Linked DNA regions of Homo sapiens. The protein of the gene in region 1 purifies or fractionates together with the protein of each later gene. This does not show direct contact. Each region holds a gene or a part of one and is shown in the gene's direction. Other genes may lie near its edges. The genes, in order: EDAR, VAMP7, UBL3, LSS, ANXA13, ABCB1 and NEIL3.

The links.
Region 2: the proteins of EDAR (region 1) and VAMP7 purify together in Homo sapiens (affinity purification with mass spectrometry; one large-scale study listed by BioGRID and IntAct). This does not show direct contact.
Region 3: the proteins of EDAR (region 1) and UBL3 purify together in Homo sapiens (affinity purification with mass spectrometry; one large-scale study listed by BioGRID and IntAct). This does not show direct contact.
Region 4: the proteins of EDAR (region 1) and LSS purify together in Homo sapiens (affinity purification with mass spectrometry; one large-scale study listed by BioGRID and IntAct). This does not show direct contact.
Region 5: the proteins of EDAR (region 1) and ANXA13 purify together in Homo sapiens (affinity purification with mass spectrometry; one large-scale study listed by BioGRID and IntAct). This does not show direct contact.
Region 6: the proteins of EDAR (region 1) and ABCB1 purify together in Homo sapiens (affinity purification with mass spectrometry; one large-scale study listed by BioGRID and IntAct). This does not show direct contact.
Region 7: the proteins of EDAR (region 1) and NEIL3 purify together in Homo sapiens (affinity purification with mass spectrometry; one large-scale study listed by BioGRID and IntAct). This does not show direct contact.

What each region holds. Positions count from the first base shown.
Region 1 is NC_000002.12:108,908,916-108,913,488, reverse strand, and holds part of EDAR (tumor necrosis factor receptor superfamily member EDAR precursor), read left to right. Parts: intron 1-724; coding exon 725-811; intron 812-2,416; coding exon 2,417-2,542; coding exon of another isoform or gene 2,543-2,638; coding exon 2,639-2,713; intron 2,714-2,956; coding exon 2,957-3,029; intron 3,030-4,573. UniProt on the Homo sapiens protein: Receptor for EDA isoform A1, but not for EDA isoform A2. Mediates the activation of NF-kappa-B and JNK. May promote caspase-independent cell death.
Region 2 is NC_000023.11:155,890,571-155,895,143, forward strand, and holds part of VAMP7 (vesicle-associated membrane protein 7), read left to right. Parts: intron 1-4,573. UniProt on the Homo sapiens protein: Involved in the targeting and/or fusion of transport vesicles to their target membrane during transport of proteins from the early endosome to the lysosome. Required for heterotypic fusion of late endosomes with lysosomes and homotypic lysosomal fusion.
Region 3 is NC_000013.11:29,840,252-29,844,824, reverse strand, and holds part of UBL3 (ubiquitin-like protein 3), read left to right. Parts: intron 1-4,573.
Region 4 is NC_000021.9:46,186,919-46,190,820, reverse strand, and holds the end of LSS (lanosterol synthase), read left to right. Parts: 3' UTR 1-2,375; downstream 2,376-3,902. UniProt on the Homo sapiens protein: Key enzyme in the cholesterol biosynthesis pathway. Catalyzes the cyclization of (S)-2,3 oxidosqualene to lanosterol, a reaction that forms the sterol nucleus.
Region 5 is NC_000008.11:123,730,642-123,735,214, reverse strand, and holds part of ANXA13 (annexin A13), read left to right. Parts: intron 1-4,573.
Region 6 is NC_000007.14:87,548,593-87,553,165, reverse strand, and holds part of ABCB1 (ATP-dependent translocase ABCB1), read left to right. Parts: intron 1-2,327; coding exon 2,328-2,441; intron 2,442-2,587; coding exon 2,588-2,698; intron 2,699-2,869; coding exon 2,870-2,995; intron 2,996-3,111; coding exon 3,112-3,315; intron 3,316-3,647; coding exon 3,648-3,818; intron 3,819-4,573. UniProt on the Homo sapiens protein: Translocates drugs and phospholipids across the membrane. Catalyzes the flop of phospholipids from the cytoplasmic to the exoplasmic leaflet of the apical membrane.
Region 7 is NC_000004.12:177,347,128-177,351,700, forward strand, and holds part of NEIL3 (endonuclease 8-like 3), read left to right. Parts: intron 1-4,252; coding exon 4,253-4,422; intron 4,423-4,573. UniProt on the Homo sapiens protein: DNA glycosylase which prefers single-stranded DNA (ssDNA), or partially ssDNA structures such as bubble and fork structures, to double-stranded DNA (dsDNA).

The sequences.
Region 1 (4,573 bases):
GACTGGAAAAAGTATTAACACATTCCTACTCTATGTAATTGAAGGAATTAGTCAAGTATTGTATCACCCTAATAGTACTTTCATGTACACACTCTATGTTGCTTATTTTTATGGATTTCATATACTTTGTCTCCACGCATAGGAAAATTGAGTTGGTGAGGCTTGCAAAACTCCCCAACCCACACTGTTTAGTTTTAGCAGACTTATCACATGAGTGTTTTCATTTAAAGAACAATAACCAGCCGGGCGCGGTGGCTCATGCCTGTAATCCCAGCACTTTGGGAGGCCGAGGCGGGCAGATCACAAGGTCAGGAGATCGAGCCCATCCTGGCTAACATGGTGAAACCCCGTCTCTACTAAAAATACAAAAAAATTAGCCAGGTGTGGTGGTGGGTGCCTGTAGTCCCAGTTACTTGGGAGGCTGAGACAGGAGAATGGCGTCAACCAGGGAGGCAGAGCTTGCAGTGAGCCGAGATCACGCCACTGCACTGTAGCCTGGGCAACAGAGCAAGACTCCGTCTCACCAAAAAAAAAAAAAAAGAACAATAACGATGACTCTTTAGGGTTCATTAAACAGTCTAAGAAATACAAATATTTAGCTCCCCTCAGCCATCACTGCCTCAGGCCCATTCATGATCATGAATCCAGATCCATGAGCTCTGTGGCAGCGTCTTTGAAGGTGGAGCTTCTCTGGATCATTTGAGGGACTCTATTTTCCTTGCAGGTGTGGGAGCCACTTCAGGAGCTTCTGCCAACTTCCCTGGCACCTCGGGCAGCAGCACCCTGTCTCCCTTCCAGCACGCCCACAAAGGTGAGGAGGGTGCTCAGGTATCGATCACCTGGAGTTAGGTGGTACTCGGATGAAAGCTCAGAAGAGGAGAGGAAATGATCATGAGTGATGATTATGGTGCGCTTCCCCACCTGGCCTCACCTCCCTAATGTAATTGAATGACATGTTGCCCCCCGTGCAGGAAGTCATTATATCTGCAATCAGAGTTGATCCCTCTATGGGTGTCCTGGGACCGCTGGGAGGTGCTGGTGGTGAAGGCGGGGGCATAGCGGCAGGTGGACAGCACAGGCAGCTGCAAGCCCGGCCAGGAGGAGAGACCAGGCGTCCTGGGCTTTGGTTTGGCCGGGAGTTAACAGCAATTCTATCACTGGTTTTCATATAAACATGCTGACCATAGCACTTTAATATTAACTTGCAGAATGTACATTTCATTCTCCCTAACCAGGGAAGAAGGGATTGAGGAGGACCCCAAAGTTTAATATGTCTCTCAGAGTCAGCCCTCCAGCTGGCTTGGCCTTTCTCTCTCACTGGTTTAGTGCCAGCCCATTATTGAAGCATGTTTCGGGCCCAGGTCTCAGCGAGCCGTGAGGTACCCTCCAGAGCCCTCAGAGCACCCAGCTCGTCAGCTTCATCTCTGGGCCTCCCACGCGCTAACGCAGAGCAAAAGGCAGGACTGCTGGGCGAGGATATATGAATCTCATTTGCACAGGCCCCGGGGGGAGTAGCTCAAAACACGGAGAATATTAAAACACTTATGTCATCCAGACCTGGCATGCTAACGCTATTACAGGTATTCCCCAGATGATGCTGGGAGGCTGGTTTTCCTGCAGATGCACCCACAGGGGAGGCTCAGCGCCCACATGCGGGGTTCTCAGCTCTGGCACTACCTCCCCCGAGATGATTTGGGAGCTTCAGATGCTGGTCTCCTGTCTATTTGGGTGGTGGCAAATCTGGATCTTAGTTCAAGACAATCAGAGTCCTGTTTGGTTATTTTAGAGAATGAGAATGAGCTTCAGGGCATTTTATGCATCCAGGGTCGACATTAACCTGGGAACTGAGCAAAATCCCCCGGGGTGACTGAGGGACTGCCTGGTGGAGGCGGCAGTGCAGGTGGAATAGGTGGCCCAGCCGAGGCACCCCCTGTGCCCTGGGGCTCTTACAATGACACTTAGGTTGAAATTGCATGAGGTGCAAGATGGAGCCAAACCTGGAATCCAGAGCTGACTTTCGCATCCTGACTTTTGTTTGGAAATGCCCAAACTTGAATTGTGCTGCCTTCCAGCCACTCTTGTTCACTGGCCTTTCTTCCTCTCCACACCAAACCCTGCCCTCAGGTTGCCAAAGCAGTAGAAGCAAGAGCAAACTCCCTAGGAACAATCAGGTGACCCCAGAGAAGTCTGGAGAGGCCAGTCTGAGGGCAGCGAGCAGGGCTGTGGGCAGTCCTGGTCTGGCAGCCAAAACCAGCGCGGAGGATTTGGTTCTCAGTCTAAGCAAGCACCTCAGATTTCAGGGTTCCCTGAAAGCATCCCAGGGGCAGGGCCATTGCTTCCAGGGGCCGGAGTCCTGGAGGGAAGACCAGCAGGGATCCTGAGCTCTGGGTCATTCATGCCTTCTCTCCACCCACAGAACTCTCAGGCCAAGGACACCTGGCCACTGCCCTGATCATTGCAATGTCCACCATCTTCATCATGGCCATCGCCATCGTCCTCATCATCATGTTCTACATCCTGAAGACAAAGCCCTCTGCCCCAGGTGACGGCCCCCATGCGCCGGTGCCCTGCTTCCTGGACTCTCCGTCAACTCCCCCTGTCGGAGAGCCTGGCTGCTCACTCCCTCCTCTCTCCCCAGCCTGTTGCACCAGCCACCCGGGGAAGAGCGTGGAGGCCCAAGTGAGCAAGGACGAGGAGAAGAAAGAGGCCCCAGGTCTGTGAACCAGGGCTTCCACACACCATGTGCACGGTGCCCATCTCTGGGTGGAGGGCGTTCCCAGAAGCAGCCTCCTCGCTGCTTCTGCTCTCACATGCTGAACCATACTGTGCTTACCGTGGGGTGGTGCCACACAGACACCGGGCAGCTCTGCCCAACAGGAAGAGCAGGGTTGGGCTGAGCGCAGAGCCATGAGCCAATTCTAACTCCTATCTCCCCAACCTCCCCATTTCCCTGCAGACAACGTGGTGATGTTCTCCGAGAAGGATGAATTTGAGAAGCTGACAGCAACTCCAGCAAAGCCCACCAAGAGGTATGTGGAAGCCCCCAGCACCAAGCTGAAGCTGGGGTCCTGTGGATCCTGAGCAGGGAGGGGAACCAGGGTGCAGCCGAGTGAACTGACAGGCTAGCCTGGGACACTATGGGGACGTTCGGCGACAGACAGTCCCCACCACCTCTTTGCTGACTGGCAGGGGTCAGGTGGTGTGAGGAGCCTGTGGAAACAGCTGCCTGCTGCTCTCGGGTCAGGCCCCTGTCCCTGCATCCTGCCAAATTCCCTGGGCCTTCCTCCTTAACATCCGAATTCCTCATGCCCCTTCTCCAGACTGGGAGGGCAGAACATAAAGCCAAGGATGCATGCCTGTTGCGGCCAACACACCAGTACCACCCGTGCCGGTGCCAGTACTGCTGCCACCGTAATGCTGGTAACAACCGTGGTGATGACGGCTAACAGCATTTGGTGCCTACTGCCCACCAAGTGCTGGGCTAGGGCTGTGAACACATCCTCCCTCCACAGCCCAGGAGCAAGGTGCTTGTATCATCCCTGTTTATAGGATACCACACTGAGGTATGGAAGTTGTCACTCGCCCAAGGTCACACACTAGTGAACAGCAGGGCTGGGGTCCGAGTCCAGGCTCCCAAGGAGCCACATGGTGTAAAGAGGCCTCTGGAGGAGGAGATTTGGCAGGTGAAGCCTTTCCCGCGTTTACCACACATGAAGGTGTGGAACCAGCCCCTGCTCTAAAATCGAGGGTAGAGGGAAGTCAATATTTTATTCATCCAGTGGGATGGTCATTTGGACTTGGTCCTGCGTAGCTTCCAAAAATCAACCCCACAGCATCAGCTCCCAGCCAGGCAATGTGCTCGGACCCCCCTGCCAGGCCTCTGCCCGACAGCCACTGCAGGCTGCGCCTGGAAGGACACCCCCGCAACAGTGCCTCCCTTGGCAGATGGGGCACAGAGGCCACCAGAAGGTCACCAAACTGGTTACAGGAAGAGCAGAGGTTAAGCCCTCCTCTCCTGCCCCCACCCCATGATCTTCCTATGATTCACCTTGCAAAGCCATTCCAATCGATCCAGCATCTGTGTGGAGATCCTGTGTGCCAGATCCAAGCTGCTGCTCCCAGGACCAAGGGCAGGACCTGGTCACCCTGCATGGAACTCTTAAATAGGGCCTCCCTAGAGACTGAATTTGCTCCTCAGCCTCCAGCCCAGCCTTATCTCATTCTGTCTCAGCCTCTCCCTTCTGATATTCAGGCTTTTCTTATTCCCAGAAATCAAAAAGGCAGAGACGTGCCCCATGACTTGAGTTGCAGTTGAAGACAGGGAAAATTTGGAGGCCCTATTAGGAAAAAATATATACTGCTTTCATACACGAATATTAAATACAAATTGAACCCTGACACTTGTACGTTAAAAGACAGCAAGGCACTGAGCTTTTGTCCCTGCTGTTTGTCCTTAGGTCTCAGAGACAGGACCTGGGGTGCCACCTCACCTGCTCCACCTCACCTTCTCTCGAGTGGGGACAGGGATGGGTCCTACCACCTCCTTGTGAGGCCCTGAAGCCTGATGAGGAAG
Region 2 (4,573 bases), on another chromosome or scaffold:
GGCTTGTCTCAAGCTCCTGACCTCAGGTGATTCGCCTGCCTTGGCCTCCCAAAGCGTTGGGATTACAGGCGTGAGCCACTGCCCCTGGCCCTTCAGTCAGTTTTTGCTTTAGAAAGATCACTCTGGTGGCTTATTAGAGTGGCCATAGTTGGGAAATCTTAGTAATTAGTTTTAAAAAGTGCCTCAACCTTCCCCGTTGGCACTTAAAAATCTTTTCTTACTTAACCCAGCCTTACTTCCTTAGTTCTTATCTCAGAATGAGGTCCTTATTACTTTCTATGGCTAACCCCTTATACAGTTTAAGGTGTACTCTAAGCTACTATGAGAGAGACCCCCAAGATACAGTATTAATTTTAATGAGATAGTCCAGAGATGAGTGGTTTGGGATGTTGGGGTGGCTCTGCCATTTCCAATTCCCTAATTCCCAAAGCAATTAGTGCTTTCCACTTCTGGCCAAGGCAGCTCCTTTGGTGCTTGTTATATCCCAGTGCTTGCCCAGTAATTTTAAAGGCAGGGCCCAGAAGTGGCCTGATATTGTTGAGAAGCTTCCACTTACATCTTACTGTTCACTACACAGTCATGTAGCTAGCATAGCTAGAAGGGAGGCCAGGAATTGTCATCTCTGGCTATGTAGTCGTAGGCTCAACTAAAACTCTGTTACTCTGGAGGAAGTTATAGGATATCAGGGGATGACTTGCAGTCTTCCAGTCTACTCTCCTGGCCACCCAGATATTTCAGTGAACCTTTCTTCCCAAACATAGAATACGCCTCTTCTCTGAGAGAGGTAGCTCCAAAGACCTATCTAGTCACTGTGTTTGGCTCCAAGTCCAGCATGTCTAGGTGGTACACAGTCCTATCCATCAGGCCCTGGTGTGGCTCCTGTGGTCCACTGACCATAAAGTAAAAGATAAGTCATATGTTTTCCCTGCTTTCCCAGCCTAACCCAGTAGACAATGGTGAAATAAGAAAAGGATCATCACAGTGAGAGTTACAAACTCCCATTTGGAAAAGGGAAGAATGAGAAACATGTAGAAGTCATTGCTTTCCAGTAATGATCAAATAATTGCCTCACACAATTTCAAAGACTCCCTATTCTGACCAGGAAGTGGTTAGTGGTTCTGCTTTCTTGGAGGAACTCCCTCACCCTTTTTCCCTGACTCCTGGCTTTGTTCTCCAGGAAGTTTTTCCTTTCTGGCCACATCCAAAATGGTAGTTAGAGAGTATATCATCTTTGGGAATTGTACCCATTTTGTAGTCCTCTTGCTGCCAGCGTAGGTTTGTGGGCCTAGAGGTTAGGGGTTAAATAATCTTAGCTTCTTATGATTTTGGCTTTATACTTTCTCTAAAAATGTATTAGACTTACAGTCTTTGTGTTTCTAGGCAGTTCCTGGGAAAATGTCCAGGGAAAGCACATGTAGTCGTCCTTTTAGAGGCAAGACTGGGAAATAGGGCATATATCTTCCACTCATGTATTATGAGCCAGAATTTAGTCACAGCCATATGTAGCTTTAAGAGAGTATAGAATATGTAATCCAATTAAAATGCAGTTATAGTAGAAGGAGATGTTATCTGTCTGCCATGCCTCTCTGCCTGTGTCTCTGATCTAGCTGTGTTATTTCGAGCTTTGGTACCTTTTTTTCATGCTTTTGTTATCTTCTAGGAATGCTGTTCTCCCCCTAAGCCTCCTTGTAAACTTTTGCTCACTTTACAGGTCCCAAGCGAAATACTTTCTTAATTTGTACTTTAATGCTTCTAAAAGGGCAGTTCTGATCATATTCCTTCCTTCAACAGATACTGTCTGCCCTCAAGGTAAAATTCCTTAACGGGACTTGGAATATTCTTCAAGATCTGCCACTTTTTCCTTCTGTGGGCTCATCTTTTACTACTTTAGTCCTCAGTTTTGCTTTCCAGCCATACTTCATACTTAGCCATTTACAATTCAATGCTAGGTTCTTTCTCTCTTCCTAGCCTTTGCAATAGCTGTTACCTTTTACTGGAATATATTTATCTACTTAATTTTTTAAAAATCTCACTTTGTGTGCCTGAGCTTAGATGTTTCCTTTTCCAGAAACCCCTGAACATTAACACTGAGTCAGGCACCGCAATCAGACACTCTTTTTATGTGTCTACATAGCATCTAGTTTGTTCATATTGTAACACTTTTCACACTGTATTATTATTATTATTATTATTATTATTGAGACGAAGTTTCGCTTTTGTTGCCCAGGCTGGAGTGCAATGGCGCAATCTCAGCTCACCGCAACCTCCACTTCCTGGGTTCAAGTGATTATCCTGCCTCAGCCTCCCGAGTAACTGGGATGACAGGCGTGTGCCACCACGCCTGGCTAATTTTTGTATTTTTAGTAGAGATGGGGTTTCACCATGTTGGCCAGGCAGGTCTCGAACTCCTGACCTCAGGCAATCCGCCCGCCTCGGCCTCCCAAAGTGCTGGGATTACAGGCATGAGCCACCGTGCCTGGCCTCAGACTGTATTATAATTGAAATGATTGTTTATTTCTGTACCCTGACTGTAGGCTTCTTGATGGCAGGGATCATACCTTGTTACCTTTTGTGGCCTGTGCACCAAGTGACTTACAAGTCTGGTTTAGGAGAAACAAATTTTATGGGGAAAGTGATGACTTTCATTCTGGGCATGTCATGTTTAAGCTGTCTATGGTATGTCCAGTTGGATATGTCTAGTAGACAGTAGTGTAGGTAGTCCTGGAGCTCAGGAGATAGGTCAGATGGAGATTTGGGAATCATTGGCATAATTGTGGTAGCTGAAAACAAACTACAACAAAACATGAGAGTGCATGCTGCCCTCCAGGGAGTAAGTAAGTGTGAAAAAAGCAGGAGGCTAAGGAAGCTAGAAAACGTTAGTGTAGAGGGAAAGGGACTATGATATAAACCAGGTATATTAGCCTGCTTGGGCTGCTATAACAAAATACCATAGACTGAGTGGCTTGAACAACAGATACTTGTTTCTCACAGTTCTGGAGACTGCGTGAGGTGCCCGCTAATTCAGTTCTTGATGAGGGCCTTCTTCCTGGCTGGCAGATGGCCACCTTCTTGCTGTGTTCTCAGGTGGTGGAAAGAGAGTGATCTTTTTCTTCCTCTTTTTTAAAGCCACTAATCCCATCACGAGGACCCCACCCTCATGACCTCATCTAATCTTAAGTGCCTCCCAAAGGCCTTGTCTCCAAATATAGTCACACTGTAACATATGAATTTTGAAAGGACACAGTTCAGTCTATAGCACCAGGCAAGCCTGATGTCAAGAAATCTAGTGAAGATAAAACACTTTCCAAAAGGAAGTGGTCAACACTATCATATGTTTCAGAGAGAGCCACTGGATATGGCAATGTGGAAGTCATTGGTGGAAATGGTGCAAATAGTTTTAGAGTATTGGAGGAAAAGATTTTGCCTGAGTTCCTGTATCTCCTTGTAATTCATGTCAGTCCTCTGTGAACATTAATATAATTCAACAGGTACCCCTATCTATCCACTTGCCCAAGGTACAAATGTGGGAGGCAAAATTTAGTTAACCTGTCTCACGCCAGTCACCAAGTTCTATAAATGCTGCCTCCTATCTCTTCTCTGTCCCTTTTTCTTTATTACCCATTCTACTTTAGTTTATTTCCCTCCTCATTTCTTACCCGGTATACTGCAGTAGTCTCCTGTCTGGTCCTCCTTTGAGTCAGTTTTCCGCACTCTAGCCAATGTGTCCTTTGTTTTTTTTTTTTTTTTTTTTTTAATGTGTCCTTTTTAAAGTGCAAATCTGATCACACCCTCCCTAGGCTAAAACTTTTGGATGTTTATTCATTATTCTTAGGATAATGCACAGTGTGGTTTATAAAGTCTTGTATAACCTGGTTTTTGCTTACTTCTCCAGTCTTGTCTGTCCAGATAATTCACTTTTTCTTCACATTCTGTACTCTAGTCATGTGAGCCAATTTTACTTTCCTAAATCTATTAGGTGCTGTTTTACCTCTAGGCCCTTATGCTTGCTGCTTCCTCTCTGGAAAAACTCTTTGCTCACTTTTTTTTGTTGTTGTTGTTTTTTGAAACAAGGTCTCACTTTGTTACCCAGGCTGGAGTGCAGTGGCGCAATCTCAGCTTACTACAGCCTCAACCTCCTGGGTTCCAGCGATCCTCCTGCCTCAGCCTCCCAAGTAGCTGGGACTATAGGCGTGTGCCACCACACCTGGCTAATTTTTGTATTTTGTGTACAGACGGGGTTTTGCCATGTTGCCCAGGCTGGTCTTGAACTCCTGAGCTCAAGCGATCTGCCCGCCTCAGCCTCCCAAAGTGCTAGGATTACAGGCATGAGCCAGCCACCACGCCTGGCCTTTCGCTCACTCTTTACCTTGCCATCTGTTACTTATTCTTCAGGTCTTAAATCAGACATCACTTGTTCTGGGAAGTCTTTCTGGTTACCCTTTGGCAAATCTCCATTTCGTGCCTCATCTATTAATGTGTCCCCAGAGCACCATGTACTGCCTTTAACTTTCCTGTCATCCTGTTTGCCATGCTGCACTGTAATTCCTTACACTGTGATCCCTATGAAGACTGG
Region 3 (4,573 bases), on another chromosome or scaffold:
ATTAGTGGATAAAATACTGATGGTGCTAATAGTTTTCACAATATAGAACATTAAATATGTTTTAGGAGACTGAAGCATATACTTAGTAAATGTGCTCTTTGATTTTCTAAGTCATCTTATTCTGGGAGGGAAAAATGAAGAGTGACTGTAGAATTCATGGTAACCTGGAAACCTTGGGTAATAAGTCATTCCGAACCAGTAAATTTTCTGAATACTTGGAGGTTGAGTGTTAAGATAGCCCAATCTAACAATGTTGGATTACCATTGCATTTGCTTAAATGAAATATACTATGCATAATTTAACTTATTTTTGATGACTTAGAGCTATGATTTGAATAATATTGCTTGCATTCAATCAGTGTTTATTGGGTACCTGTCTGTGTAATATGGTAGTAGTATTAACAGGCATAAGCTACAACTATAATACCCTCGGCACCTAATATAGATTGTGAAGCTTTATGCCCCTTCACTAGATCAGTAATTTACAAAATGAGGTGAAGCAAGTCAATTTTGAGAAGTAAATATGAGAACTTCTGTTTGTTTATTTTGTCCCCCAAAAGGGAAAAGAATTGAGCTTTTCTATTCATACTATGTGAATTGGCTGTGAGGTTCTCCTAGGTCCACCTGCATTCAGGTGGTCACTGAGAGTGTGGTTTGCTGAGGGAAGATGTGTGAATTCTAGAATGTAGATGCCAGCAACAGCACCATGAGTTTCTCAGAGTTTTTCCAGTTTTTCTGTTATATAGTCCCTTTAAAAATACTTTTTAAAAGAAGAATCTATGATACTTCTTATTGAGATGGGGAACAGAGGTTTGCTGTCAAAGCATTTAAGAGTTGTAGAACTCAAAGATTAATCACACATTTTTATTACAAAAGATGAGTATTCTATATGCTGTTCTTATCCGTGATGACAAGAGGCTACCAAAAATAAAAATCTAGCGGATGTGTTTGGGAAAAAATCCCCAAGTTGTCACTTCAAGGCAAAATCGACATTTTAAACAGTAAGTGAGAAAGTACCTGCTTTTCAAAAGAAACATGTTATGGAGAACATTTTGAAAGCATGTTGAAGTATTTACAGTCTGTTGAAAATCTTCCTTACAATGAATTTTAATTGACTTTGGACCATTTATTGGAAAGCCAAACATTTTAATTTGTAAACATTCTTATTGCAGTCAGGAAAAAGAAAATTTTAATAACATTGACATCAGGTAGCTGACTTTGAATAAAAATGTTTGCGTATTTGGTGATAGAATGAAAAAGTAATATGATTTAGTAAGTTAGTAAGTGACATGTTCTTCTATATAGATCTCATCTTTGTAAGATAAGTTTTTCAGGTATGACTTATGACAGCTCTTAAAACCAAGTGCAAAATACATTGAACTTCACAAAAGAAGAAACTAAGATTTAAAAAAATGGAGATATATTTAATAATAATGCTCACCTAATATGTTAATAGTAATAGCATTTTTAGTGATTGAAAGATTAAAACAAGTTAATATTTAAAATAGTTGATAGTTAAAATAGTAAAGTAAAAACAAAATTTTAATCTTTTAATTTCTGTTTTTAGTATATGTTTTATACTATGTGTATGTTTATAAATGAAAACACATATACTATAGGTATGTGCCTCAAGTATTTTATATTTGGGATCTTCAGTCAAAAAAATGTAGGAGCCACTGCACTAGATGACTAAAGATTTCTGAGCATTTTAACTTCTTGTGTTTGATAGTTAGAAGTTTTCTGTCTCCTGCCTTGTTGAGCAGCTGTTTTTTCCTGTGATCAGTGTGCCTACTTATTCCTAACCATTTACAGTTGCTGGTTTTAATTTGCTATGGGTGTGGAAACCATATTTCCAAAGTTTATTAAAAATAATATGTGTTTAAAATGAGCAAATGGTGTCTGAGTAGGATTTTAGGAGTTACCTCACAGTAAAGTGAGTATCTTTTGTTTCATGGACTTGATCATATCTGTTTTGGTTGCTTAGAATTCTCTTTTTAGGAGGGCTAATTTTCTGGCTGTTAGTTATGTTTTGCAGAGATGCAGTTTCTTGATAGTGAAGAACTGCTTAGGTGATAAAAAAATTACACATAACTTTACTTTGAGCTCGTAGAGGAGAGAGAACTAATATTTGTTGTGTACTTTCTAGTACCAGGCAGATGCTTGGCATTTTACATTATAGCATTTAATTTAATCCTTACAGTCACCCTGGATAAATATGGTTGGTATATAGATAAAGAAACTCTTAATACCCACCAGGTGAAGACCACCAGGAATGCATCTGTGGTGAAACAAGTTAGGTTGACTGTTTTGCAGCTAGGAAGAGCGTATGCCAGATCCTGCCAAGTGTCAGTAAAAGAGAATGGGAGGGCTGGGCACGGTGGCTCACACCTGTAATCCCAACATTTTGGGAGGCCGAGGTGGGTGGATCACTTGAGGTCAGGAGTTCGAGACCACCCTGACCAACATGGTGAAACCCCCATCTCTACTAAAAATACAAAAATTAGCTGGGCATTGTGGCAGGCGTCTGTAATCGCAGCTACTCCGGAGGCTGAGGCAGGAGAATCACTTGAACCCAGGAGGTGGAGGTTGCAGTGAGCAGAGGTTGCAGTGAGCTGAGATTGCGCCACTGCACTCCAGCCTGGGCGACAGAGTAAGACTCTGTCTCTAAAAAAAAAAAAAAAAAAAAAAAAGAAAGAGAATGGGAGGAGTTTTCAGTAGGGTTTGGGCTGTGCTGGAAGCAGGGACTCCTGGACTGAATGCTATCGTACATCAACTGGAGGTGGGTTAGTAATTGGGTCTTTCAGCAGTCTTTGTTTAGGAGACAGGATAAATGAAGGGGATTTGGAAAGTCATTGGTGAGAAAACATAATCACTTACAGAATGGGAGATTGTTGGTCATTTTGGAGCTGCAGTGTGGCCATAGGAAAAACTTTTTACCTGTTGGTCTTCTATCTTTCAGATATCACAGTCTGATTATCAACCGAGCTCATTTTTACTTTCTCACAGCCTAGGTTCAGAGAGGGTAAGGAACTTGTTTGAGATCACATAGCGAGGAAGAAGTTGAGCTAGAATAGGAGTTTGGGTCTGGTGGCAATAGTGATAAACATCTACACCCCTCCCCACAACGGTAACTGAGCAAACATTACTGAATCCCTCAGGCACATTATCCTAAGAATGCCTTAGATTCCTTCCCAATACCTTGCTCCAGGGAGTCCCTACTGATTGGTCTGAGCTAGCATGGTAGAAATGAAACCTACTTCATATATCTTTGTAATAAACTATGTAACATCTGGATTGGAATGATTTTAATTAAGGTTGGTTGTCTTACTAATTGGTAAAATTAAAGGGAGTTTCCTTTAAACTTGTTGGAACTTTGAGTCTTCTTATGTATATATTTGTTACACAGTGGATTTTTCTTAAAAAGTACTACTTTGAATGCTTTATATATATATGTAACAAATAGATTGACTTGTAAAGGATTTAGTGATTTCGGGGCATTTTGTTTTTGTCTCCATACTTTTAACTGCATATATATATGTAGAGAGAGAGAGAGAGAGAGAGAGATTCTCTATTGGTTGGTCAAATCTAGTAGCATTTTTGGTCTTAAGTAAATATATATTTGGGTAATTTTCTGACTAGATTTTGAGAAGAAAATGTTCTTTCTGCTGAAGAAAATTGTTGAAGTTTGACATTAACATTTTTGTTTATGTACTTAAGATGGCAATTTATTGTGTCTAGACAAAATGTTCTTATGATATATGTTTTTCTTTACTTTCATATAAAATTAGTGTTTTTCTTTGCCTTAGAAATAGTCTTGCTTTTGTATCCTGCTATTCTCATTGTCATGTTAAATCAAGTTTAGCCTAAAGCTGCCTCCTTACATATTTAAAGCTCAGCCTATATTATGAACATCTATCTATGCAAATAAGTATAGAACCGTATTATAATTTTGAACCGATTATGATAGATGTATATAAATTATTTAGCGAATTCCATATTCATGAGCATTTAGAAGCTATTACAAACAATGACATAATGGATATTCTTAAACATATCTCTGTGCCTTGTCTGATTATTCCCTTAGGACAAAACTCTTAGTAATGTAGTTGCTCTGTCAAAAAATATGTGTTAATTTTGGGATGGGTGGGAAAGAGAAGGATATATATTTCCTAATTTTAAAACATCCTTGAATTTCTGGATAAACCTAGCTTTTAATTTTACATTACTCAAATGGTATATGCTAGATAATACTTCATTGAGTTTTTTTTTGTTCATGAAAACAATTGGCTAGCAATTTTAATTTCTTGTAAAGTATTTGACAGATTTAGGTATCAAGGTTATGCTGACCTCATAAGATGAGTTGGGAAATGCTTTTTAATACTCTGGAAGAATTTGTGAAGATTGATTTTATTCCATCCACAAATGTTTGAAAGAATTCACTGGTGAAGCCCTCTGGAGTTTTCTTGTGAAGATTATTGATTGTATTTCGTCAGTACATAAAAAGCTATTCATATTTTCTATTTCTTTGTCAATTTTGACAAGTTTTGCTTTTCAAGAGATTTGTCCATTTTGT
Region 4 (3,902 bases), on another chromosome or scaffold:
CCACCTCTGGGCACGGCCTCAAGGTAGTGAGGCTAGGAGGTTTTTTCTGACCAATAGCTGAGTTCTTGGGAGAGGAGCAGCTGTGCCTGTGTGATTCCTTAGTGTCGAGTGGGCTCTGGGCTGGGGTCGGCCCTGGGCAGGCTTCTCCTGCACCTTTTGTCTGCTGGGCTGAGGGACACGAGGGCAACCCTGTGACAATGGCAGGTAGTGTGCATCCGTGAATAGCCCAGTGCGGGGGTTGCTCATGGAGCATCCTGAGGCCGTGCAGCAGGGAGCCCCATGCCCCTGGGTCGTGAGCTTGCCTGCGTATGGGGTGGTGTCATGGAGCCTCATGCCCCTGGGTCGTGAGCTCGCCTGAGTATGGGGTGGTGTCATGGAGCCGCATACCCCTGGGTTGTGAGCTCGCCTGCATATGCAGGGTCTGTCATGGAACATCCCAAGTCTGTGCAGCAGGGAGCCCCATGCCCCTGGGACATGAACCCACCTGCGTGGAATGCTGTTTGTGAGGTGTCTACAGGGTTTATAGTAGTCTTGTGGACACAGAAATGCACAGGGGACACTTACGGACACAGAAATGCACAGGGGAGGCCGAGCATAACCAGGGGTGAGGGGCAGGCAGCAGTTGTAGTTACTGCCGCGGGGCACTGCTATGTGCAGGGACAGCCAGCACCCAGCCCATCACCACTCCCTGGGCTGGCTGGCAGGTATGGCACCCTGGGAGCCCGGCATATACCCAGGGCACCCCTACGGCTGCCGCCAGTCTCATGCCCAGGTGGGTGCTCTGGGCTGGAGCGAGGGCCAGGTTTTGGGCCGAGGCTTCCCCAGGCAATCCTGTGAGCTCCCTTCTAGCCTCTGACCCAGTCTGGTCTGGCTTGCATGGATGTAGGGCTTGGGGTGGGAAGTTCAGGTCCTGGCTTTGCCTTTGCCTGATGTGGATGAGCAGCTCACATGCTCAGGGCCACCTGAGACTGTCACTGCTCTCCCCTGGCTACTGGGAGGAGTCACTGAGAGCTTCGTTACCCCTGCTGCCTTGCCCAGGGCACACCCTATACCTCCTTATCTGCTCTTCCCCTCCCTGCCGCCTTCTGGGCAGGTAGCAGTCCCTGGCCTCTCCCCCTGGCTGATCACTCTCCCTCAGGCAGTGGAGATCTGCGTCTGGACACCCTCAGATCCTGTCATTGCCTGCCCAGAGTCCTTCAGGGGCACCCCTCTGCCTTGGTGTGCAGTCCAGGGCTCTCACCCAGGTGCCGCACCCTCTGGGGTCTTCTGTCCAGCTCCCTTGCCCCATGTGCTGTCACTGACTCTCCTTGGGACTCGCCTGCCTGCTCAGAGCCCTGCAGGGCTTGGTCAGCTGCCTGTTCAGTGTCAACACTTCCCTGCACATCTTAAAACTGGGCTTTATTTTCGCTGAAGGAACTGTGTTGGGACCCTTGACATCTGTCAGGTTTGCACATGCTGTTTTTTTTTCTCAGCCCACGTGTTCTCCCCCACGTGGGGTAGCAGCAGGACAGACAGTGAATCACAGAGTCTGCCCTGAGCAGAGGCTGCTGTCCCTGGGACTCCTAGCCATGGTCAGACTGTACAAAACGGTTTTCCAGAAATGAAATGTAAATCCATTTTTATACTGAAAATGTTACTGAAAGTCACTTTTATGAGCATCTGCCTTAATAAACAGACATTGATTCCCTTATCAGAAGCCTGTCACACTGTGTTTCGTTTCATCCTGGGGAGAACTGCAGATTTGGGGTTTCTGGCTGTCATACGTCACCTGCCTGTGGGGCGAGTGGGAGGCCCAGCCTGGTTTAGGGAACAAGAGTGACGTGAGGAGTAGCAGGGTGCGTCTCCAGTTACCTGAGGGAAAACAGATATTTTAAGAGATAATAGCATAGCCTATTTTAATATGTTTTAAAGGCCATAAGCATATCCAGGAAGATAAATAAACGTGATACAATGTCCACATAGGAGGAACTTTCTTTCACTGCATTGTTTTCCTTCACAGTGGCCTTCAAGTCACAGGACGCAGCGATTCCCTGCCCTCTTCGGTGTTATTACACAGGCAGGACTTCAGTGTCAGTATCCCTGCCTTCAGTCTTCTTTAGAAATCACATCTGTGTTCAATCCATTGTTTAGAGGGAGTGTATTTTTCCTGTTCCACGAAGAGGACTTTTTGTTCACAATTGGATCACAATGCAGAGGAGTCTGTTCCTCCCCCGTCGGCTTCTCGGTGCTGGGAGGGTGACCTGTCCCAGATGACTCATCACCCTGACATGCTCTTGACAAAGGACACCACCAAGAGGAGATGGCAGCTGTACCGGTGCAGCCTCTGTCTGAGGGGGATATTTGCCTCAGTGTGATTAAAAATCAGTCATGAAAGATTTTTGAATTCAGATTATTTTTATCAGGAACAGATTTTGAACATCCTGAAATCTTTTCCCTGGCATCATATTAGGTTTTCTTTGTTCACTATGATGTAAAGTTTCAGACTCTTGATATTTTTAATATCAACATAGACGGTAGGACAAGGAACGGTACCAGAAATGAGTAAAGAGACAATAATGATAAGATCGATTTATCAAGACATAACAACCCCAAATGTATATGCACTAAATAACAGCTTCAAAATACATGAAGCAAAATGGCAGAATTGAAGAGAATGAGATAAAAACAGAATTTTAACGGGTGCTTTCCGTACTTTGTAACTGACAGACATGAGATCTGTAAGGACAGAGATTTGAACATCAGCCAACACAAGCGAGCGGTCTTTAGAGGATGCTTCACCTAACACTGCTGAAGCACACGGCTTTGCAAGAGCTCGTGGCCCATGTGCTAAGGTAGACCACAGCTGGCTCACCAGGTGAGTCTCAGTATGTTAGCAAGGACGGAAGTCACACACAGCATCCTCCCCCACCACAGTGGAGTTAAACTGAATTGAAAATCAGTGGCAAAGGAGCAAAGGCAGTTCAATGGAGAAAGGACAGCCTTCAACAAATGCTGAAACAAACTCCATTTGTAAAAAAAAAATGAACCTTGACATACCCTTCACATCTAGACATACTCAAGATCAATCAGAGACCTAAATGTAAAACAAAACTATAAAACCCCTAGAACATCACATAGGAGGAAATCTAGGTGACCTTGGGTTTGGCAGTAACTCTTTAGATATGACACCAAAGGCATGATCCTCGAAAGAAAACATTAATAGGTTGGGCTTCATTAAAATAATACATTTCTGGCTCATGCCTGTAGTCCCAGCACTTTGAGGGGCCAAGGTGGGAGGGTCACTTGGGCTCAGGAGTTGGAGACCAGCCTGGATAACAGTGAAACCCCATCTGTACAAAACAGTCAGAAGATTAGGCAGGTGTGGTGGTGCGTGCCCGTTGTCCCAGCTACTCGGAACACTGAGGTGGGAGGATTGCTTGAGCCTGGGAGGCCGAGGCTACAGTGAACTGTGGTTGCGCGGCTGTGCTCTTAACTTGCGTGACAAAGTGAGACCCTGTCTCAATAAAATAATTAATGAAACTGAAACTTTCTGCTCTGCAAAGAATGTCAAGAAAATGAAAAGACAAGTCAGAGACTGGGAGAATATATTTGAAAAAGACAAAGGATCAGTATCCAAAAGAGCTCTTCAAACCCAACAATAAAACAACCTGGTTAAAAAATGGGCTGAAGGGGCCGGGTGCGGTGGCTCACGCCTGTAATCCCAGCACTTTGGGAGGCCGAGGTGGGCGGATCACAAGGTCAGGAGATAAAGACCATCCTGGCTAACACGGTGAAACCCCGTCTCTACTAAAAATAAAAAAAATTAGCCGGGCACGGTGGCAGGCGCCTGTAGTCCCAGCTACTCGGGAGGCTGAGGCAGGAGAATGGCGTGAACCCGGGAGGCAGAGCTTGCAGTGAGCCGA
Region 5 (4,573 bases), on another chromosome or scaffold:
AGTGTAATAGACAATGTTATTTTGTTGAGATTCAATAGCTGTGCTCAACATGAAATGGTCCCAATGGCTATAATGCTGGGTTTGTTTTTTTTTTTTTTTTTGAGTTTTACTTGGTTTTTGTTTTGGTTTGGTTTGTTTTCTGAATCTCAGCAAATCTAAAATATGATGTGGTATGTGACTTCTGAGTTCTTTTATCATATTTCTCTATTGAACCTACTGAGACACTTTTGTTTGTAAGCCTCCTTGTAATGCCGTGGGACCTTCTCTCGGCTTACACACATGGTGTTTCTATTAAATCTCCCTCTGTTCACTCTTCTTTCATCATTAGCCTGCAATTATTGAAGTATGGCTGTTTGGCATATAAACAATCGTAAATACAAACACAAATGCAGACATTTAAATCATGAGCCAGGACTTGGTCATCTTGATGATCTAGGATGCTTTATATTAATTTTTAAGTTATTATCAGCATGAAATGCAAAAGACTCCTAGAAAAGTTTTTATTCCCCCAAGAATATGTCCACAGACCAGGGCCCATAGATAATTGACAACTATTATTGCAGAGCCAGTAGAATATTGGCCAGGAAATTGCATTTTTCAAGGTACTATCATCTGAAATCCTAACCAATCCTGAAACGAAAATTACTTTTGTGCTATCCTCAATTCTTTTGCCACTATTAATGATTTTTTTGAACCAAAGACCTAGTGTTTGTAACTAACCTATGTGGAGCAGCAGTAACCAAGATACTGGGTCATTATCATCCGCCAAATCACACAATGTTCAAAGAATTTCCTTATCCTGGAGGACATGTCCTTGTGTCCAGTGAGCTTTGCAGGTAGAGTGTACACAGAGAGAAAGATCAGATCAGTGGAAAAATCTGCTTAGGTTTAGCTAGATGACTCTTCTATTGTCTGGGTTTTCACAAGAATCACTATCTAGGGAAAAATACAGAAGTGAGATCAATATTAAGATTACTTTACCACGGGAGTGTGGCTATAGGATATGTGCAGAATGACAGAGGGAGGGAGACCTAGTAGAGCCATTGATAAATGTGGAAATAATCACAAACTCAAATGGACTCATGATTTCTGGGAAATTACTTGCAAGGCTAATGAACAGGCAATAGAAAGGACTACAGCCCTGCTACTCAAAGTATGGTCCCTGGATTTGTAGCAGCATCCACATTGCGTGGGCACTTGTTAGGAATGCAGATGCTCAGCCCACTCAGATCTATTGAATCATAGTCTGCATTTTAACAGACTCTTCAAGTGATTTTCAGGCACATTAAAATCTTAGAAGCACTGGACTATGGAACGCGTTGTCAAACTTGCCTGCATTGAGATCACCTGAGGAGTTCTAAAAGCCACCGATGCCTGGGTCCCAGCCCTAGAGTCTGAATTAATTGGTCTGGTGGTTGTCCTGCGCATCAGGGTTTGTAAGTGCTCCCCAGGTGGCTCTAATGTGCAGCAGAGTTTGAGAAACACTGGACTGTAGAATATGGCTAACCTTTCAAGAAGAGCTCTGCACACTGGGGACAAAGGCAGATGGTCATTGCACATGCTCCTAACTGAAAACCGATTTGTAAATGTTAGAACATCTGTTCAGTGGTCTGCCACGTTGTTTGTGAACATGCCAAGTTTATGACTTGCTTGTGCCAATATTTAGCCAACATAAATATTGTCTCCAGTGGAGAACAGTTTGGGACTTGTGGCAGGTGAACACCAGGCAAGGTGAACACTCAGATGAACGTGGACAAAGAACATCTGAAAGCTGCATGACAAGTGGGGAAATAGATCCAGATTCCTGAGAAAAGAAGACAGGCTCTGGAGGCAGGTGAAATATGGCTGAGAATTTGAAATTAAAATAAGTATGGTCTTAACCAAGGGTGTGCATTAAACTGTGATCCCAAATCCAGAAGACCCATGATCAAGCCCTAGCAGAAAGCAGTCTAGATCATTTCAAAAGACTTAAATAAATAAATAAGATCCTTATTTATTTATTTATTTAAGATCATCTTAAATAAATAAGATTAGGAAATATTACTTTTTTTTGAGACAGGGTCTTGCTCTGTTGCCCAGGCTGGAGTGCAGTGGCACAATTATGGCTCACTGCAGCCTCAACCTCCCTGGTTCAAGCAATCCTTTTACCTCAGACCTCCAAGTAGGTGGGACTACAGGCATGTGCCATCATGCCCAGCTAATTTTTTTAAAGACGGGTCATCCTATGTTGCCCAGGCTGGTCCCAAACTCCTGGGCTCAAGCGATCCTCCCACCTCAGCCTCCCAAAGTTCTGGGATTACAGGTGTGAGCCACTGCACTTGACCTCAGGAAATCTATTATCCCAGAAAGTTAGTCCTTCAGAATGCCACTGCAAAAGTGTAGGAGGAAGTGAAAAGGGCCTTTGATGTCAAAGCATGACATGCACCAATGCATACCTTCTTCATTTAAAGACAAGTCTCTGAAGGGTAGCTACATTTTAGGTACAATTATGCAATCTTGGCCTTTTGGATATTTTGTCTATGGTGGATGCAAAAAAAAAAAACAAACCAGCCATTGTAAGGAGGTGGTAAGAAGTCGGCAGAGGACAGATACACTGATAGAAGGAAGAACATGTTAAATGAAACCTCAACACAAGAATTCTAGAGCCGCGGGAGTCTGGAGCCACTTGGTGCAGGGGAGAGAATCCTGCATGTCCCAGCAGCGTGAGCCCACCTCCCAGTGCTACAGCCACAGCAACAGGAACCAAAACTAAAACTCCCAGTGGTGATGGTTGTAACTGGAAGTTTAAACGAGATCTTCTGAAATGTTAATGATAATAACTGACATTTATAAAGTGCTTACTAGACTGTGGGCTGTTTTGAGGGTGTGAACAGTGACCCTGGAAGTTTGAGTCCTTCACGCCACCAAGCACTTCACATGTGTTACGTCATTTGGTCTTCACAACAATCCTATCAGGGAGATACTATTATTAGTCCCCTTTTAAATATGGGGAAAGTAAGGCAAAGAGAGTTTAGGTAAATTGTTCCTAGTTGGACAGCTAGTAAGAGGTCAAGCACAGATTTGGATTTAGGCACAAATTTTTAACACTATGCCTTGGGTTCAATAAAGCTTCTTTTTACGCCAAATAGAAGATTAACCTATTGGGATTTCTGAAACTGTTGAACTGAATCATCACCTCGTCATCTCTTTAGCCCCTTCCCTGAGCTTTCTCCATCCCCTGCCCCCCAAGCTGGATTGGATGCTCTTCCTTAAGGCTTCCATAGTTCTCTCTGCATAACTATTACTCCACTCCCATGTGGTTTTAGAACCATCTGGGTTTTTTGTTTTTGTTTTGTGTTTTGAGACAGGATCTCGCTCTGTGGCAAAGGCTGGAGTGCAGTGTCACAATCACTGCTCACTGCAGCCTCAGCCTCTCGGGGTTCTCCTACCTCAGCACCCCCATACCCCCAAGTAGCTGGGACCACAGGCGAGCATGACAACGCCCAGCTACTTTTTAATTTTTTGTAGAGATGGGGGGTCTTCCTATGTTGCTCAGGCTGGTCTAGAACTCCGGGGCTCAAGAATCCTCCAACCTCAGCCTCCCAAAGTGCTGGGATTGATTACAGGTGCGAGCCACTGTGCCCAACAGAACCACCTGTTTTGTATACCTGCCTCACACTGGACTGATGGTTTCCTGAAGGTAGAATTGTATTTTGTTCACCTATATATCCCCATCACCAACACAATGCCTGCAGCATGGTAGATGCTTAATAAAATTTGGATAAATTCATCAATGCATTCATTGCATTTTCTAAATAAATCTTAAACAAATCAGTGTTTTGCCCAGTTGGAGTTCAAATTCTTATATCTATTTACATTCCCAGACCAATTCATGCGCAAGGCCCTGGCGTCTGTATATTTTTAAACTCCCCAAATGATTCTAATGTATCCAAAGTTGAGAGCCACGAGTCTAACGTCAGGTATTCTAGTGCAGTAGTTTTCAAATGAGGTCTCCCAGGCCCGCATCATTGGTATAATCCAGGATCTTGTTAGGAATGCAAATTCTGGAGCCCCACCCCAGATCTACAGAATCAAAAACTCTGGAGATGGGATCCAGCAATCTGCATCTGAACAAGCCTTCCACGTGAAACTGATATGTGCTCAAGTTTGAGAATGACAGTTGAAGCATAAGCCTTTCCCATGCCCAGGCTGGGGCTGTGCCTCAGCATTGACTATGGGGAACTCCCACCATTCAACCTACAGAGATGCCCAGATGATGGCATTGAAACCCGGGTTAGCACCACACCTGCCTCCTCAGGCTTCTCACCCGGAATGCAGCCCGGAGAACTCCCCCATTCTGCTCATTTCCCCACCCCACCCAGGGTTCCCTCTCTCCCTGCTGCCATGTAAGATGTGACTTTGCTCCTCCTTCACCTTCTGCCACAACTGTGAAGCCTCCCCAACCATGTGGAACTGTGAGTCCATGAAACTTCTTTCCTTTATAAATTACCCAGTCTGGGGTAAGTCTTTATTAGCAGCTTGAAAATGAGCTAATACAGACAGCAATAATTGGATTTAGGAAATACTCTAAATC
Region 6 (4,573 bases), on another chromosome or scaffold:
TGCCAAACTTGTTGCTAAACACTTCACTTTTATTTTCTGATTTACTATTCACAAAAATGGCAAAATACACATTTTGACTTCTTTTCAAATTATTTCGAATGGCAGCTAATCCACCTCACAAATTATGGAAGTATAAATTGTTCCTCTTCCTAAAAGATTGTTTGGAAGTTTTCTGCATTATAGACCTTTGTGCAAGCACAGAAGTCTTGCCATTTAATGTTATCCTCTTTTATTTTAAAGACAATGAAATAATTTGCAAACCAAACTCAATTCATATCTGGATCTAATAAAATACACTGTTAGAAGAGTCACTTAGTTCCTTTTTCGTAGGCCAAGCAGAAATAGATTGAGGCAATGAGAGATGATATTTTGTAGAATCCCTTAAAACAATTCCCTTTTTCAGGAGCCAGATTTGTAATATGGATTCAATAATCACTTCTTTTTCTTTTTTTTTCAAATTTGCCTTATCCAACATTGCTCAGTGGGGAATGGCTTTTCCCATGAAGTTTTTTTTTTTTAGTATAGTGATGCTGTGGGTGATCCTTGGTTGTCATAACAGATGTTTTCTGTTTAACTGTGATTGAGATAAGCAGTTTAAATCCAGTGTTCACTGGGCATGAATATACTTCACACACTGGAGGCATCCAAAATAGGGAGTGTGGGGTTTGATATCGGACCAACTTGATTCAAATGGCAGCTTTGTCACTTATTAGCTGTATGATTTAGGGCAGCCAGCTAAACTTTTCAAGCCTCTGCTACCTCTTCTGCCAAATGATATGACAGGAATGAACCCTAACTTTCAGCGTGTTTTGAGGACTAACTGAGATAATGAATATAGAATCACTTAGCAAAGTTCCTTCTGTGTAAATTATTGAGCAATATAATTCCATGTGATTTAGAAAAAATGAATAATGACATTAATTCTCATCAACCCCAAAGAGAAACACAGTTAAGTCTTTACCAATAAGAAACTGATTTGCACAAAACAAAAAAACAAAAGGCCTAAAGAGAACACGGCCTTGTGGCAAAAAAGACAACCTGATAAAGGATCAGTGTCTTAGGTGTGTGTGCTTTATAATTAACAAAAAATGTTCATATACACTGTTTTATCATGATACAACATCTCTATGATTGCTGGGTAGGGAGAACAGATAGAATCTTGCCTGTTTTTGCCAATGAAGAAATTGAAGCCAAAGATTCTAAGAGAATGGCCTAACAACATATAACTAGTTATTACTAATTTAGGATTCAGAACTGGGTCTTCTGACTCCTCTGCTAGCATTTATTTCCACTTTACCTTACTGATGATCTAAATAAAAAAAAAACTAGACATTGAAGAAATATAAAAATATCCTATTATAATATTCTAGCCCTGTGAAATTTAAATCATTGTTTATTGAGCAAGTAAGACTAATTCTGCATTCTAAATTGAAAAGTATTTATATTTCCAAAATATTTTTAGTATGGGCAACATAGTGAGATCTCATCTCTATAATTTTTTTTTTTAATTAGCCAGATATGGTGGCACTTGTCTGTAGTCCCAGCTACTTCGGAGACTGAGGTGAGAGGGTTGTCTGAACCCAGAGGTTGAAGTTGCAGTGAGCCAAGATTGCACCACTGCAGTCCAGGCTGGGCAACAAAGCAAGACCTTGTCTTAAAATTTTTTTAAAAAAATTTTATGCTATTTTTAATTGACAAATCATAATTGCATTACACTTACGGAATACAATGTGATGTTTATGTATACACACACATACACACAAAATGTGGAGTGATCAGAGCAAGCTAATTAACATATCTATCTCCTCACTTGACACCTTTTGAGGTGACACATTTGAAATTTACTCTTGGCTGGGTGTGGTGGCCCATGCCTGTGATCCCAGCACTTTTGCAGGCTGAGGCAGGAGGATTGCTTGAGGCCAGGAGACCAGGCTGGGACACGTAGCGAGACCCTGTCTCTAGAAAAAATAAAAAAAATTAGTCAGGTGTGATGGTGCATGCTTGTAGTCCTAGCTACTTGGGAGACTGAGGCAGGAGGATTGCTTGAGCCCAGGAGGTAGAGGTTATGACGAGCTATGATTGCACCACTGCACTCCATCCTGGGTGACAGAATGAGAACCTGTCTCTTAAAAAGGAAAAAAAATGAAAAAAGGAATTAAATGTACTGTTAGTTACAAACTTTTAAAATATTTTTAACACCTAGTATTTATATGTTGCCTCGCCATTTTAAATTTTAATTACCTATGTTAGAAAAAGACAGAAGAAGTATGAAAAAAAATTGCTGTCACTATCTCAGTAGCCTGATGGTTTTTCTTCACATTCCTCAGGTATTCTTTTCTGTATTAATTGGGGCTTTTAGTGTTGGACAGGCATCTCCAAGCATTGAAGCATTTGCAAATGCAAGAGGAGCAGCTTATGAAATCTTCAAGATAATTGATAATGTAAGTCTGAGTTGGCCATCTATCCACCTATCTAAAAGATTGTCCAGTTAAGTCAATTTCTTTGTCACTTTATCCAGCTCTCCACAAAATATCACTAAAAGTAGTTATTGTAACCTAGTAATCTCTTAAAATTTGATTCTGTTTAGAAGCCAAGTATTGACAGCTATTCGAAGAGTGGGCACAAACCAGATAATATTAAGGGAAATTTGGAATTCAGAAATGTTCACTTCAGTTACCCATCTCGAAAAGAAGTTAAGGTACAGTGATAAATGATTAATCAACAATTAATCTATTGAATGAAGAGTTTCTGATGTTTTCTTGTAGAGATTATAAAAAAGTGCATGTATATTTAAACCTAGTGAACAGTCAGTTCCTATATCCTGTGTCTGTGAATTGCCTTGAAGTTTTTTTCTCACTCGTCCTGGTAGATCTTGAAGGGTCTGAACCTGAAGGTGCAGAGTGGGCAGACGGTGGCCCTGGTTGGAAACAGTGGCTGTGGGAAGAGCACAACAGTCCAGCTGATGCAGAGGCTCTATGACCCCACAGAGGGGATGGTGAGATGACCCATGCGAGCTAGACCCTGCGGTGATCAGCAGTCACATTGCACATCTTTCTGATGTTGCCCTTTCAATTACAAATGTATGAAAGTCACACTTACTTTTTATTCCAGGTCAGTGTTGATGGACAGGATATTAGGACCATAAATGTAAGGTTTCTACGGGAAATCATTGGTGTGGTGAGTCAGGAACCTGTATTGTTTGCCACCACGATAGCTGAAAACATTCGCTATGGCCGTGAAAATGTCACCATGGATGAGATTGAGAAAGCTGTCAAGGAAGCCAATGCCTATGACTTTATCATGAAACTGCCTCATGTAAGTTGTCCTTGCCCTTTGCCTTTCTAGAGGTGCAAAAAATAAAATGCAGGCCTACTATGCAGGAAGTTAGGAAACTACTATAAATCGGAAGAAGGGAAATCCTAAGAAGGGAAAGTAAGATTACTTCAGATTTGAAAGCTCTAGCAGTATCAACTGGTCGTAGATACATTTTTAAAAACTGAGGTTGGTTATTGTGTTAAATAAGATTTAAAGAACTGGACCTGTATTACTTGTGAGACTTGGGCTGTGTATAGGATTCCTTACCAATTTAAAATATGAGCTGAGATAGCTTGTCCTTATGCTAAATCATTCTGGGTTTTCTGTGGTAGAAATTTGACACCCTGGTTGGAGAGAGAGGGGCCCAGTTGAGTGGTGGGCAGAAGCAGAGGATCGCCATTGCACGTGCCCTGGTTCGCAACCCCAAGATCCTCCTGCTGGATGAGGCCACGTCAGCCTTGGACACAGAAAGCGAAGCAGTGGTTCAGGTGGCTCTGGATAAGGTCAGTGAGGCTTAGTTCAAACCAACCTGATTTATAAGCATAAGAACATTCTACTACTAATTCTTGTTAATATTGGTCTTAGAAAAGGAAATTTCTGATAGCTTCTAGGTGATTCCTTCAGCTATTAAAATAAAAGCATTGGGCCTCTTTGAAATCTTTTTCTATTTGTTTGTTTTATTGTTCAATTTCTATTTATTTCTCTGATCTTATTTTAAATGTTGATGAATACATTTTCATTTGAAGACACTTGCTAATCTTTTAAATTAAAAAATAGAAATATAGACACATGTGAAAGTTCATCTTCATTGTGATCTTCAAAACTTGACTATGTGGATAACCCTGTTATTTAGGTTTTGAGAGTTTGTAATATTGCCAAGAAGAGAAAAATACAACCTGAAGGTCCATATATAATTTTCCAGGTGTTGAATGCCACTTGAAGACTCTATGCGAAATAAGAAACCTCTTATTTCCAGGAAAGGGGCAGATAGCCTGTGATACTGAAAACCTACCTAAGCCATGACAGGTTATTGACTATCAACAGAGTTTGACTGTCCTGCAATTCTGGAGTCCATATGACTCATTCACCAAATAGCATTTGAGTGTTTGCCGTGTGCCGGGCACTGTGCCTTTGATCTCCAGCACGTGATAGTAACGGGGATAATTCTGTGAGGACCGAGAATGTGGAGATGGAGACATTATAACCAAAGGTGTTCCAAGTTGAGATGTCACAGTAGAATTCAAAGATGAACTCATAT
Region 7 (4,573 bases), on another chromosome or scaffold:
CTCATTTTTGATAGGGTAGCAGATAAGTCCGTGGGGAGGACTTTGTTGAAAAGATTTGATGACTTGTAGCAATCTGAGGGTGGGGGAAATATTTCAAAGAAGGTAGCCCAGAAAAGCATAAAGCCTCTGAGTTGTTGAAGGAAGAGAAAGAAGGCATGTATGACTGAACCAAGCAGAGGGAATGAGAGACAGAGGCAGCCCCTCTGCTTGGGAGGGACCAAGGAGCATGCAGAGTCGGCTTGGCCAAGGCAAGTTTCTGAGTAGACTGGGGAGCCTTTGGAGGGTTTTGAACGGGCGTGAAATAACTGACTTAATGTTTGAAAAGATTAATCACTCTGGCGACTGTTGCCAATACTTTTGAGCTGGGAAGCCACTGGGAGAGTTTGAGCAGGAGGGCAGCATGAAGTGACTTGGGTTTTCTGAGGATGATTTGGGCTGCTGTGTGGAATAGAGACGGTCATGGAACCAGAGTGAAGCGGCAGCATCGGGGGCTCTCAACAGTAGTGCAGGTGGTAAATGCTGGTGACGGGGAAGAGAGAGAAGGTGGTGGGAAAAAAAGGTTGAATTTAGGATAATTTTGGAAGTTGAGTTAGGGTTAAGGCCAGAAATTTATATAATTTGGGGGCCCTTATTTATGAAAAACAATAAAAAATTATGACTACAACGTTAGGTCCTAATGTGAATATGTAGAATAAGAAATCACAACAAATTATATTTTTTAAACACCACAAACATCAGAAAAATGAGATATTATTAGTTCACTGCCTGACACAGCTGTGTAATTGTGTTCCTTTATGTTTTTGGCTGCAAACTCCTTGATTGCCTTTTCATATGACCACCAACAATATCATTACATCTTTTATTACGGCTAGATGAGAAAACTTTTAGCTTCACAATTGGCTGTTGATAGTGACACATCTCCAACTTCCTCTATCTTTTCTTTAAGCAGTACTTCTCTGTAAGGAAACCCTAAGAGCAGTGCCTCTCAAACTTTAGTGTGTACCAGCATTTTCTGAAGGGCTTGTGAAAACACAGATTGCCGGGCCCCACCCCTAGAGCTGGGGATTCAGTGGGTCTGAGGAGGGGCCTGAGAATCTGCATGTCTAACACGTTCCCACATGACGCCCATGCTGCTGGCCTGAGGACTTGACTTTGAGAACCCCAGCCCTTTGATCTTCCTCAGGTGCCTCAGGTTCCCCCCCTCTACCAGGTTGTTTCTGAGTTAGGGTGGGTAGTATAGGGGTAGAGTGGCCTGGCAGCCTGGATCATGGTGGCCTGTGAGCTCGGAACGATGCAGTATCTTTTGTTCAGGTCCTTCTCCTCAAGCCTCAGGGCAGAGTCCGCCTGCTCCTTGAGGTCACCAGGGCAATAGTTTCCCTGGGCACTGAACAGATGTGAGGTGATGCTGGCAGCACCCAGGCGCCAGGATTACCGCTGCCTGCAATCCTCTGAGTCCCCAGCATGTGGTCGAGTTATGGCTCCCATTCTCCATGCTGCCCACCCCAGTGTGCAGAGGACACGTCAAGCCATGGAAAGTTAAACTTCTTTTGCTTCATGTAAATTTGCATCTGCAGCAGATCCCACGGGATTTGCTGATGGACTGGAAGTGGGATGTGAGAAAAGGAAGTGTTAAGGATGACTTCTAGGTCTGGGCCTGATGAATTGAGCGATACTGATGCCATTTCCTGACATGAGATAGAATAGTAGAATTGCAGATTGGTGGCTCATGAATTTTTTTTTTTTTTTTTTTTTTTTTTTGACACGGAGTCTCGCTCTGTCACCCAGGCTGGAGTGCAGTGGCGTGATCTGGGCTCACTTCAAGCTCCGCCTCCCGGGTTCACGCCATTCTCCTGCCTCAGCCTCCCGAGTAGCTGGGACTACAGGCACCCGTCACCACACCTGGCTAATTTTTTTTTTTTTTTTTTTTTGTATTTTTAGTAGAGACGGGGTTTCACCGTGTTAGCCAGGATGGTCTCGATCTCCTGACCTTGTGATCCACACGTCTCGGCCTCCCAAAGTGCTGGGATTACAGGCGTGAGCCACCGCGCCCGGCCTCGTGGGTCATGAATTTTGTCTGTATTCATTTCCGCTGGCTGCCATCATAAATTATCATGACCTTGGTAGCTTAAAGCAACAGAAATGCATTCACTCAAACGCTGGATGCTAAAAGCTCAACATCAGTTTCATTGAACCAAAATTAAGGTGTGGGTAGGACTGTGCTCCCTCTGGAGGAACTGGGGGGAATCATATTCCTTTCCTCTTCTCGCTTCCGGTGCTGCCAGCGTTCTTTCATGTGTGGCTACATCACTGCAACCTCTGCCTTTGTGGTCTCCTTGCCTTCTCTTTGGTGTGTATCAAATCTCCCCCTCCCTCTCTCTTATAAAGACACTTGTGATTGGGTTAAGGGACCATCAGCTAATCCAAAATAATCTCTCTACGCCAAGATCCTTAATTACATCTGCAAACCCTCCTTCTTTATAAAGTAACATTTATAGATTCCTGGAATTGTGCCCTATGTCTTTGGGAGGCCATTATTCATCCTACTACAAAACATTAAGTTTGGGATTCTTCTTACACATCCAAGTGGAGATTGGGAAGAATTTATTAATGAGTGATTAAGAAATAGAGCAGTAAAGAAAGGAAAGAATGTTTCCAAAGCCTCCATATGTAACAATAAAATTCTCCTTATGATCAGGGAAACTTTTAGGACAGAAGAAAATGAAAATAGGGAAAAGTTGGAGCACATGGAAAATCTAAAAGTCATTTAAATTGTGTTTGTTTAATTATAGATAAATGCATCATGCTGCCTTTCAAAGTAAGTTAGTAGAGGACAGAGATTAGGTCAAATAAACAAATTCTGTAGAAGATCTGATATTCCATAGGGATAATAAATACTGAGTGGCATTAAAAGTCAAGGGAAGTAAAGATAAAAGAATCCTAATGAGATGTATCTTACTTTCAGATTTTCTTATTCTATTTATTATTTTACCAGACACTCCTGAATTTTAAAACTAGTGTAATTATATGTAAGGAACAAAATGTCACAGGAGACAAGGTTACCTTTGAAAGTCAAAGAACTCATGTTCTGAAATGTAAGATACATAGCCTTTACCTGCAAGAGCTTTGTTCAGTATTAATGTTTGGGATCATGAAGGGAATCCGTGATACTGCCATGGTTGCTTAACTGTGTGACATGCTCTATATCCAGACCTATAGCTAGCTGTGCATTAGAGAGTAGGACTATGTCACAGCCGTATAAAGGCATTTTGTGTAAAAATACATGGTCAATGAAGGACTTCAGATGGAGAATCATGATTTATATTTGTGGCCAAAAATCAGGGTTTTATTGTTTGCTTGCTAATCTATTAATTGGCTATCCACCATGAAACAGTCTTACATGAAGGGAAACAACACAAAGAGATATCTTTTTTCATCATTATGAATTAATGAATTTACATAGTGCTCAGCAGATACTGTAGAGAAATTCTAGAGTTTCCTGAGTTTTCTGTGCACATGAAGTAAATATAAAACTTTCACATCTTTCAATCCTCTAATTTCTGCATAGGTGTATTTTCCCATAATTTAATTGAATAAAGGTATTTTCATTTTGTTTGGGAAAAAAGTACCAATTACTTAAAACATTATTTGAGAAATACTTCCTAATGTGATATCAAATATTTTTAGTTGGTTTAAAAAAAAGCTACTCGATTATTTGACTCTAAATAACTTTTATTTGATGTTTCTCACTTTAACAACAATTAGTTGTTAAAGGGGGGTCCAGGTGAAAACATTTTACTCTGGCCAGGTGCAGTGGCTCATGCCTTAATCCCAGCGCTTTGGGAGGCTGAGGCAGGAAGATTACTTGAGGCCAGGAGTTCAAGACAGCCTAGGCAACACAGCATTCCATCTCTACTAAAAATTTAAAAATTAGCCAAGCAGACCAATGTGCACCTGTAGTCCTAGCTACTCAGGAGATTCAGGTGGGAGGATTGTTTGAGTCCAGGAGTTCGAGGCTGCAGTGAACTATAATGGTGCCACTACGCTGCAACCTGGATGACAGAGCAAGACCCCATCTCTACAAAAAAAAAAAAAAAAAAAAAAAAAAAAAAAAGACTCTAAGATACAGTACTAACTTCCAAGCAATAATAAAGAGATAGCATTGGGGTATTAATGGTTCTATAATCATTTCTAAAATATCCAGACAAGAACAAGGCAATAATAACAATGATTAATTTTAAAAATTATCTTATAGCAAGCTACCGACTAGAAATACTATAATCAGTTGGACATCTAGCAGGGTGGATCATGTTATGGACTCCGTGGCTCGGAAGTCGGAAGAGCACTGGACCTGTGTGGTGTGTACTTTAATCAATAAGCCCTCTTCTAAGGCATGTGATGCTTGCTTGACCTCAAGGCCTATTGGTAAGACTGAATTTTGATTTTGAGTTTGTTACATTTCTAAGAGGGTTAATTATACAAAGTCAGGAATATATCTTGCTCCATCTTGATATTCCATAACTAAATAAAATTTCTTTCTCAAAGGTTTAAAGGAATTGCCAGTTTTCACATGTAA